2 linked regions of the Homo sapiens genome follow. The protein of the gene in region 1 purifies or fractionates together with the protein of each later gene. This does not show direct contact. Each region holds a gene or a part of one and is shown in the gene's direction. Other genes may lie near its edges.

Region 1 (3,811 bases):
GCTCCACCCTTTGACCTGTCCGGGACTGTGCAGGGCAAGCCCTTGTCCTCTTGCCTTCCTCCAGGGAATCATCGCAGAAGAGAACAAGAACCTGCAGCCCCAGGGAGACGAGGACCCCGGGAAGTTCAAGGAGGCTGAGCTGAAGATGCGGAAGCAGTTTGGGATGCCTGAGGGCGAGAAGCTGGTGAATTACTACTCCTGCAGCTACTGGAAGGGCCGCGTGCCCCGGCAGGGCTGGCTGTACCTGACGGTCAACCACCTGTGCTTCTACTCCTTCCTGCTGGGGAAGGAAGGTGAGCCCGCCCCTCAGTGTGCCCCAGCCCCCACACCCTCAGCCCCTCCCTGCCTTCGGCCCCCAGATACTCCATCCCCACATGGCCACCAGAGGGGTCTCCCTGAAACCCAAATGCCACCTTAGCGGCCCAAGATGGGACTGTCCGGCCTTGGCCAGGCGTACACCTGCTCCCAGCCGACTTTTACCATGCCCCCCACTCGCTAGTAGGGTTCTCTACATGGTGACTCCGCGTGCCTGCCCTGCCCTCTTCTGCTGAACTGGCGTATTCAGGCACACGTCTGTCCCAAATTCCTGGTGATTCCATGTCATGCAATGCCTTGGGTGCGTGCCACAGCCCTCATCTGCTGCAGGTTCCTCCCTACAGACATCCCGGCCACAGGATGCGAGCCTGATTTCCCAGCAGCTCCAGAAAGAGCCCCAGGGTCTTAGCCATCCCCAAGCCCACCAAGCCCTCCTCCCTCCTTGCCTCCCTCAGCCCACAGCCTCCCTGTGCCCCCTCCTGCCCTTGCCGCTTACCTGTCACGACCAGGTGGCCAGTCACCTCCCGTCAGCAGGGGCTGTGTCCTGTTCTGTGTTGGCCGCGCTGTGCTGTGACTGTTCACACCTCCGTGCGCTCCCACTTGGGGGAGCTGCTGGGTGGGTCTCGGTGGTTCACCTCCGCACGTTCGTTCCTTTCCCCTTCAGCCACTGGTGGGGGAGACACTCACCGTGTGTGGTTGGTCTGGAAGGCAGTGGACACCTCAGTGGCCTGGTCCCTCCACATGGAGGGCGTGACACAGCCCAGACAGGCCTGGGCACACAGGAAGTGCTGCCCCCAGAGAGCAGTTCCCTGGGATGGGTCTGGGGTACAGATGGGCATCAGGAGCCTCGCCCTGCCAGGCCCTAACTTGCGGTGTGTCTATCTCTGTGGGCACAGTGAGCCTCGTGGTGCAGTGGGTGGACATAACGCGTCTGGAGAAGAACGCCACCCTGCTCTTCCCCGAGAGCATCCGTGTGGACACCCGCGACCAGGAGCTCTTCTTCTCCATGTTCCTCAACATCGGCGAGACCTTCAAGCTCATGGAGCAGTTGGCCAACCTGGCCATGCGGCAGCTGCTGGACAGCGAGGGCTTCCTGGAGGACAAGGCCCTGCCTAGGCCCATCCGGCCACACAGGAACATCTCAGCCCTGAAGCGGTGCGTTGCCCTCCAGGGCTGGGGTGGGCTCATGTGAGCCAGGTTCGCTGACCTTGGCTGGGACCTGCCTGGTCCAAGTGTGTAGACCTGGAGAAGGTGTCCACATTCACCCCTCATGGGCTCCCCACTTGGGAAGGAAGCCAGGTAAACAGATCATTGCAGTCCCGTGTGGAGAGGCAGCAGGAGATAGCAGTGATGTCCTGAGGATACCACTAATGGGGAGGAAGCTCTTCACACTTTATTCCTCTTGGCCCTATGATGGGAAGGGGCTCTTACCATCCCTAGGTATCAGACAAGGAAGCTGAGGCACAGAGAGGTTAAGTAACTTGCCTGAAGTCCCTCGGTTAGTGAGCAGTGGAGCCAGGATGTAGCCACCTCAGCCAGGGTGTTCTGACACCCCCAGAAAGGCTTTGGTAAATCTGGGCTCAAGTGCACGGCCTCCGTCCCACCGTGATTGACAGCTCTCCTGTATACCCTGAGACTCCTTGGCCAGAGGCCTCTCACAGCCATGGGACCCCCAGGGGTCCTGAGTTTGACGTGGAAGCAGACCTCTGGGTCTGAAGCCAGCCAAGGAGATGGGCCATGTGTGGGTCTGAGTTCCCTGCTGCCCTGTCCAGGGGACCGATAGGCAGGAACACATCATAGCAGCCAGCCCTCCCGGGCTACTTAACGTTTGGGTTCCTAGGTTGTAGCTTATGGGAAACTCCAGAGGCTGGACAAGATCTCTGAGGTTCCCTGGGTCCCACAGCCAGCCTGACCACAGCCAGATTCACACCCTTGTGTTGAGCGACCTCATTCCAGCCAGGCCATTTCCTGCATTGCACCCACAGACTGTGGTCCAGGCCCAAACTCTGGGGTCCACCTCCAGGACCAGAAAATTGTGCAAGCATGTTGTCCTTGGGATGCAAGTGACAGGTTGGCTTGTTGGACCTTTTGGAAAGAACACGAGCAGAGATGGAACATGACTGCTCCTGGCACTGCCGGTGAGAATGCAGTCAGGCCCTGGTCAGGCCACTGCGGCCCAGGGCAGGCAGGAGGCTCCCTTTGGGGCTGGGAGAGTTTATGTGGACAGAGCCACCAAAGGGGTGAGGGCCTGGGCCAGGCCACTGTCACAGCCATCAGATACACAGGTGTGCATTTCTGTTAGCAGCCGCATGCTTTAGTTTAAGCTCCACACCTCCCTGTGGGGAGCTCCTCACCTAGGTTTCAAGGTGAAACCTGGGGTTAGGCCTGCCCAGGGTGGAAGAGCTGCCCGGGGCCCTCCATCTGAGTGGGATCCAGGGCAGGTGCTCTGGGCTCTGCTTGCCCATCAGTACCGAGGGATGGGTTGCACATTGCCCAGGCCAGCATCTAGGTGTGTCCTTTTCAAAGCAGTCTCAGGACACATTGCTTGCTGGCCACTTCTCCGCTGGTTATGTGACTGTCTCACCTTCTGCCTGCTCACTCAGCATGCATCTTTTATTGAACTCTGAGGTCCCTGAGCATGACTTGCTCAAGGGACCACCCCAGGGATCCTGAATCTGATGTGGAAACAGGCCTGGGGAGGCCCCAAGGCTTCCTTGAGAGTGTGCTGGTCCTGACCTTGTCCCCTTTCCTCCTGTCCTCCTACCTTGTTTCCCCAGAGACCTGGACGCCCGAGCCAAGAATGAGTGCTACCGAGCCACGTTCCGGCTGCCCAGGGATGAGCGGCTAGACGGCCACACAAGCTGCACCCTGTGGACGCCGTTCAACAAGCTGCACATCCCTGGCCAGATGTTCATCTCCAACAACTACATCTGCTTCGCCAGCAAGGAGGAGGACGCTTGCCACCTCATCATACCCCTGAGGGAGGTCAGCATCCCCTAGTTGAGAGGCCAAGGCCTTTCCAGCCCCGAGGTGTCAGTGGGCTCAGGGACCAGCCTGTCCTGCTCTGCCCTGTCTCACTGGGGGGTACCTGGGAGGATGCCCTAGCCCAGGCAGTCACATGTCACTCAGTGATGGGACAGGTGGAGGGTGTAGGACAAGTGAGCCCCTCCACAGGCACCTGCCCTGTTGGGGAGGCAGGTAACATGGTGGGGGCACACTGCTTGCCCTCTCAGGTCACTTGCCTAGTGGAGACAGGGTCTCCCACGCGTGAGTTTCCATCAGGCCTGCCTTCTGGGCCCTGCAGGGCAAAGTGCTGCTCCGTGGCTGCGCTTAGAGGACCGTGTTCCTGCACCGGTCCCATATGTCACTCTCAGAGGCCACCTCACCAGTCCTCTCTGGACATACCACCTTGGCGTGGCTCGGCTCCAGCAGGCCATCAGAGGTCGGCTCTCCCCTGTGGGGCGGCGTCGGCTCTCCCCTGTGAGGCTGCATTGGC
Region 2 (3,811 bases), on another chromosome or scaffold:
GCACTTTGGGAGGCTGAGGCAGGTGGATCACCTGAGGTCAGGAGTTCAAGACCAGCCTGGCCAACATGGTGAAACCCTGTCTCTACTAAAAAATACAAAAATTAGCCAGGTGTGGTGGCACATGCCTGTAATCTCAGCTACTTGGGAGGCTGAGGCAGGAGAATCGCTTGAACCCAGGAGGCGGAGGTTACAGTGAGACGAGATCATGCCACTGCACTCTAGCCTGGGTGACAAGAGTGAGACTCTGCCTCAAAAAAAAAAATAAAATAAAGTAAAAAAAGACTGCCTGGAAGGAAGGAGGCTGGAAGGGCAGCTAACATTTCCTGACTGCTTCTCCTGTGCCAGGATCTGTCGTACCCCATTTGCCCCATTTAATTCTCACATCAACCCTGTGAAGTGGTTATCCCCCTTTTACAGATGAGGCCCCCAACCTCAGGGAGGTTGAGTAAAGCATGGGGAGGTCATATAGCTGGTAAACACAGACTGAGTCAAACTCTGCCCAACCCTAAACTCTCTCTACTACACCAGTGGTGTTTTCTTTTTTTTTTTTTTTTTGAGATGGAGTCTCACTCTGTCACCCAGGCTGGAGTGCAGTGGCACAGTCTCGGCTCATTGCAACCTCTGCCTCCCAGGTTCAAGTGATTCTCCTGCCTCAGCCTCCCAAGTAGCTGGGACTATAGGCGTGTGCCACCACACCCAGCTACTTTTTTATTTTTAGTAGAGATGGGGTTTCACCATGTTGGCCAGGCTGGTCTCAAACCCATGACCTCAGGTGATCCGCCCACTTCAGCCTCCCAAAGTGCTGGGATTACAGGCGTGGGCCACCGCACCTGGCCTACATCAGTGGTTTATAAAAACTATTTTAAGTGGTGGTAATCCCAACACTTTGGGAGGCCAAGATGGGAGGATCTCTTGAGGCCAGGAGTTTGAGACCAGCCTTAGCAATAAAATGAGATCCTGCCTCTACCAAACAGACAAAAACCAAAAACACTCACACAAAACAATAAGCATTCTTTTATTAAAGCCCAATATGTAAAAGATAGTAGCACGGCTAATCCTCCCTCTGACATGAGGCATTGCCTCTAAAGCCCTAAGGCTCCCGGGAGAACAACTTGAAAGACCTGTATATTAGTTTTCTATTGTTTCTATAACAAATTACCAAAAACTTAGTGGCCTAAAAAAACACAAATTTATTATCTTATAGTTCTGGAGGTCAGGAGTCCAAAATGGATCTCACTGGGCTAAAATTAAGCTGTCAGCAGGCCTGAATTCCTTTCTAGGGGCTTGAGGAGAGAACTTGGTCTTTGCCTTTTCTAGCTTCTGGAGGCCTCCTGCATTCCTTGGCTTGTGGCCCCTTCCTGCAGCTTCAAAACCAGCAGTGGCTCGTCGAGTCTTTCTCACATGACATCACTCTGATGCTGACTCTCCTGCCTCCCTTTTCTGTGTTTAAAGGGCCTTTGTGATCACATCGGGCCCACCCAGGTAACCCAGGATAATCTCCCTGCTTTAAAGTCAGCTGATTAGCAACCTTAGTCCCATTTGCTGCCCTAATTCCCCTTTTCCATGCAACTTGACATATTCACAGGTTCTAAGGATTAACACTTGGACATCTTTGGGAGCCTTTATTCTGCCTACCACACCTTGCACTACCCTCTTGCCCCCAACCAGAAGTGCATAGATGGAGGCAGGAGAAAGAAGAGGAGGGAGGCCAGACTTGGAAAGATGAGGCTTGTCTTTGTGTTTCCTTTCATAGAGAAGTGCCCAGGTAAATCAGGAGGTGGCCCTAATGTCCTTGGACCTTAGCAGCCTCTCTTTTGCCTCAGATTCCTGGGGCTGCAAAGCCTGGGGTCAATCAGAATAGGAAGCCAGGCCTCAGGCAGAGCAAATTTTGGGTAGTTCCATCAACTGGCAAGAGCATTCCCACTTGCTTTGGGGTAGCCTTCCCAGTTGCTTTGGGGGAACCAGATGAGCTGGGCTCATCTCCTTTCTAAATCACAGAAGATTCAGATCTCAGGAGTCCATTTGGCTGGGTCAGTAGTGAGTTGGCTCAAATTTGATGGACTGATACACAACTCTCAGAGCTCATTTCTTGCCTCTGACTCTTCTTTTTTTTTTGAGACAGTCTCCCTGTGTCAACTAGGCTGCAGTGCAGTGGCACGATCTTGGCTCACTGCAACCACCACCTCCTGAGTTCAAGCAGTCCTCATGCCTCAGCCTCTTGAGTAGCTGGATTATAGGCACTTGCAATCATTCCTGGCTAATTTTTGTATTTTTAGTAGAGACGAGGTTTTGCCATGTTGGCCAGGCTGGTCTTGAACTCCTAACCTCAAGTGATCCACCTGCCTCAGCTTCCCAAAGTGCTGGGATTACAGGCGTGAGCCACCATGCTTGGCCCCTTTGAGTCTTCTAATAATAATAATAAAAATAATGGTAATGGTGATAGTGGTTGCCATTTTGGGGGTGCTTTCATGTACTAGGCCTGTGTAGGGCTTTAGGGCTTTTTTTTTTTTTTTTTTTTTTTTTGTGGGGTGGGACCTTGCTTTGTGGACTGGGCTACAGTACAGTGGTGTGATCATGGCTCATTTCAGCCTCCCGAGTAGTTGAGACTACAGACATGCGCCACCATACCTGGCTAATTTTTAAATTATTTTTAGAGACAAGGTCATGCAGTGTTGCCCAGGCTGGTCTCAAACTCCTGGGCTCCAGTGATCCTCCTGCCTTGACCTCCCAAAGTGCTGGAATCACAGGTGCAAGCCATTGCTCTGAGCCTATAGGGCTTTTTATATACACTTTATCCTGTAATCTTCACAGCCACTCTGTGAGGTGAACGGTTAGTCCTAGTTTATAGATGAGGAACCCAAGGCACAGACGTTAAGGAATATGCTCAGAGCTCATGAGTGGCAGGGCTCAAATCCATACCCAGAGCTGTCTCGCAAGGTGTTCTGACTCTGGCTCAGTTGTTCCTAGATGAGAGCTTTCCTGCTCCAAATTCTCCCCTCCCTGTAGCAGATCAATTAAGGACTGCTTCACTTGTTATGCCAAGTGCTGACACCACAAAGAGGGTGAGTAAGTTCCTCCAGGAACTCAGGCATATAGAGACAGAAGGCCGGTTACCCAAGGAAGAACTTGTCCCTCCTTCTGAGCCTTCCTTGACTTCCCTGATGAGGTCCCTTTCTCCCTGTGATATGCTTTCCTTTGTAACAGTTAACACAGTTGATAGGTCACATTTATTGAGTTTAATTATTCAGTTAATTGTTATCCATCCCTTGGCACTGCCCTACAAGTTCTGTGAGGCACACAGATTTTGTCTTCTCCTCCTTTACTGTAACTCCAGTGCCTAGTGTGGAGTGTAGTATGGAAGTATGACTCCATAGAAGTATGAGTACTGTAGGTACTCAGTACCTATTTGTCCTCTGGGGGAGAGCAGTGGAGATTTAGAGCAAGAGAGCCTCTCATCTAGGAGCAACTGAGCTAACTGGAATGAATGAATGAGGGCCAAAGAAATGGTAGAGTCAGGTGCTTCAAAATTAATGAAGGGGCCTGGCGTGGTGGCTCACACCTGAAGGGGCTCACACTGTGGCTCATCCCAGCACTTTGGGAGGCCAAAGCGAGCAGATCATCTGAGGTCAGGAGTTCGAGACCAGCCTGGCCAGCGTGGTGAAACCCCATCTCTACTAAAAATACCAAAAAAACTAGCCGGGGCATGGTGGCAGATGCCTGTAATCCCAGCTACTCAGGAGGCTGAAGCAGGAGAATCACTTGAAGCCGGGAGGCGGAGGTTGCAATGAGCCGAGATTGTGCCACTGCACTC

The links.
Region 2: the proteins of TBC1D9B (region 1) and PACC1 purify together in Homo sapiens (co-immunoprecipitation; one large-scale study listed by IntAct). This does not show direct contact.

Annotation. Positions count from the first base shown.
Region 1 is NC_000005.10:179,890,868-179,894,678, reverse strand, and holds part of TBC1D9B (TBC1 domain family member 9B), read left to right. Parts: intron 1-64; coding exon 65-293; intron 294-1,211; coding exon 1,212-1,470; intron 1,471-3,092; coding exon 3,093-3,300; intron 3,301-3,811. UniProt on the Homo sapiens protein: May act as a GTPase-activating protein for Rab family protein(s).
Region 2 is NC_000001.11:212,404,818-212,408,628, reverse strand, and holds part of PACC1 (proton-activated chloride channel), read left to right. Parts: intron 1-3,811. UniProt on the Homo sapiens protein: Chloride channel gated by pH that facilitates the entry of chloride ions into cells upon exposure to extracellular acidic pH. Involved in acidosis-induced cell death by mediating chloride influx and subsequent cell swelling.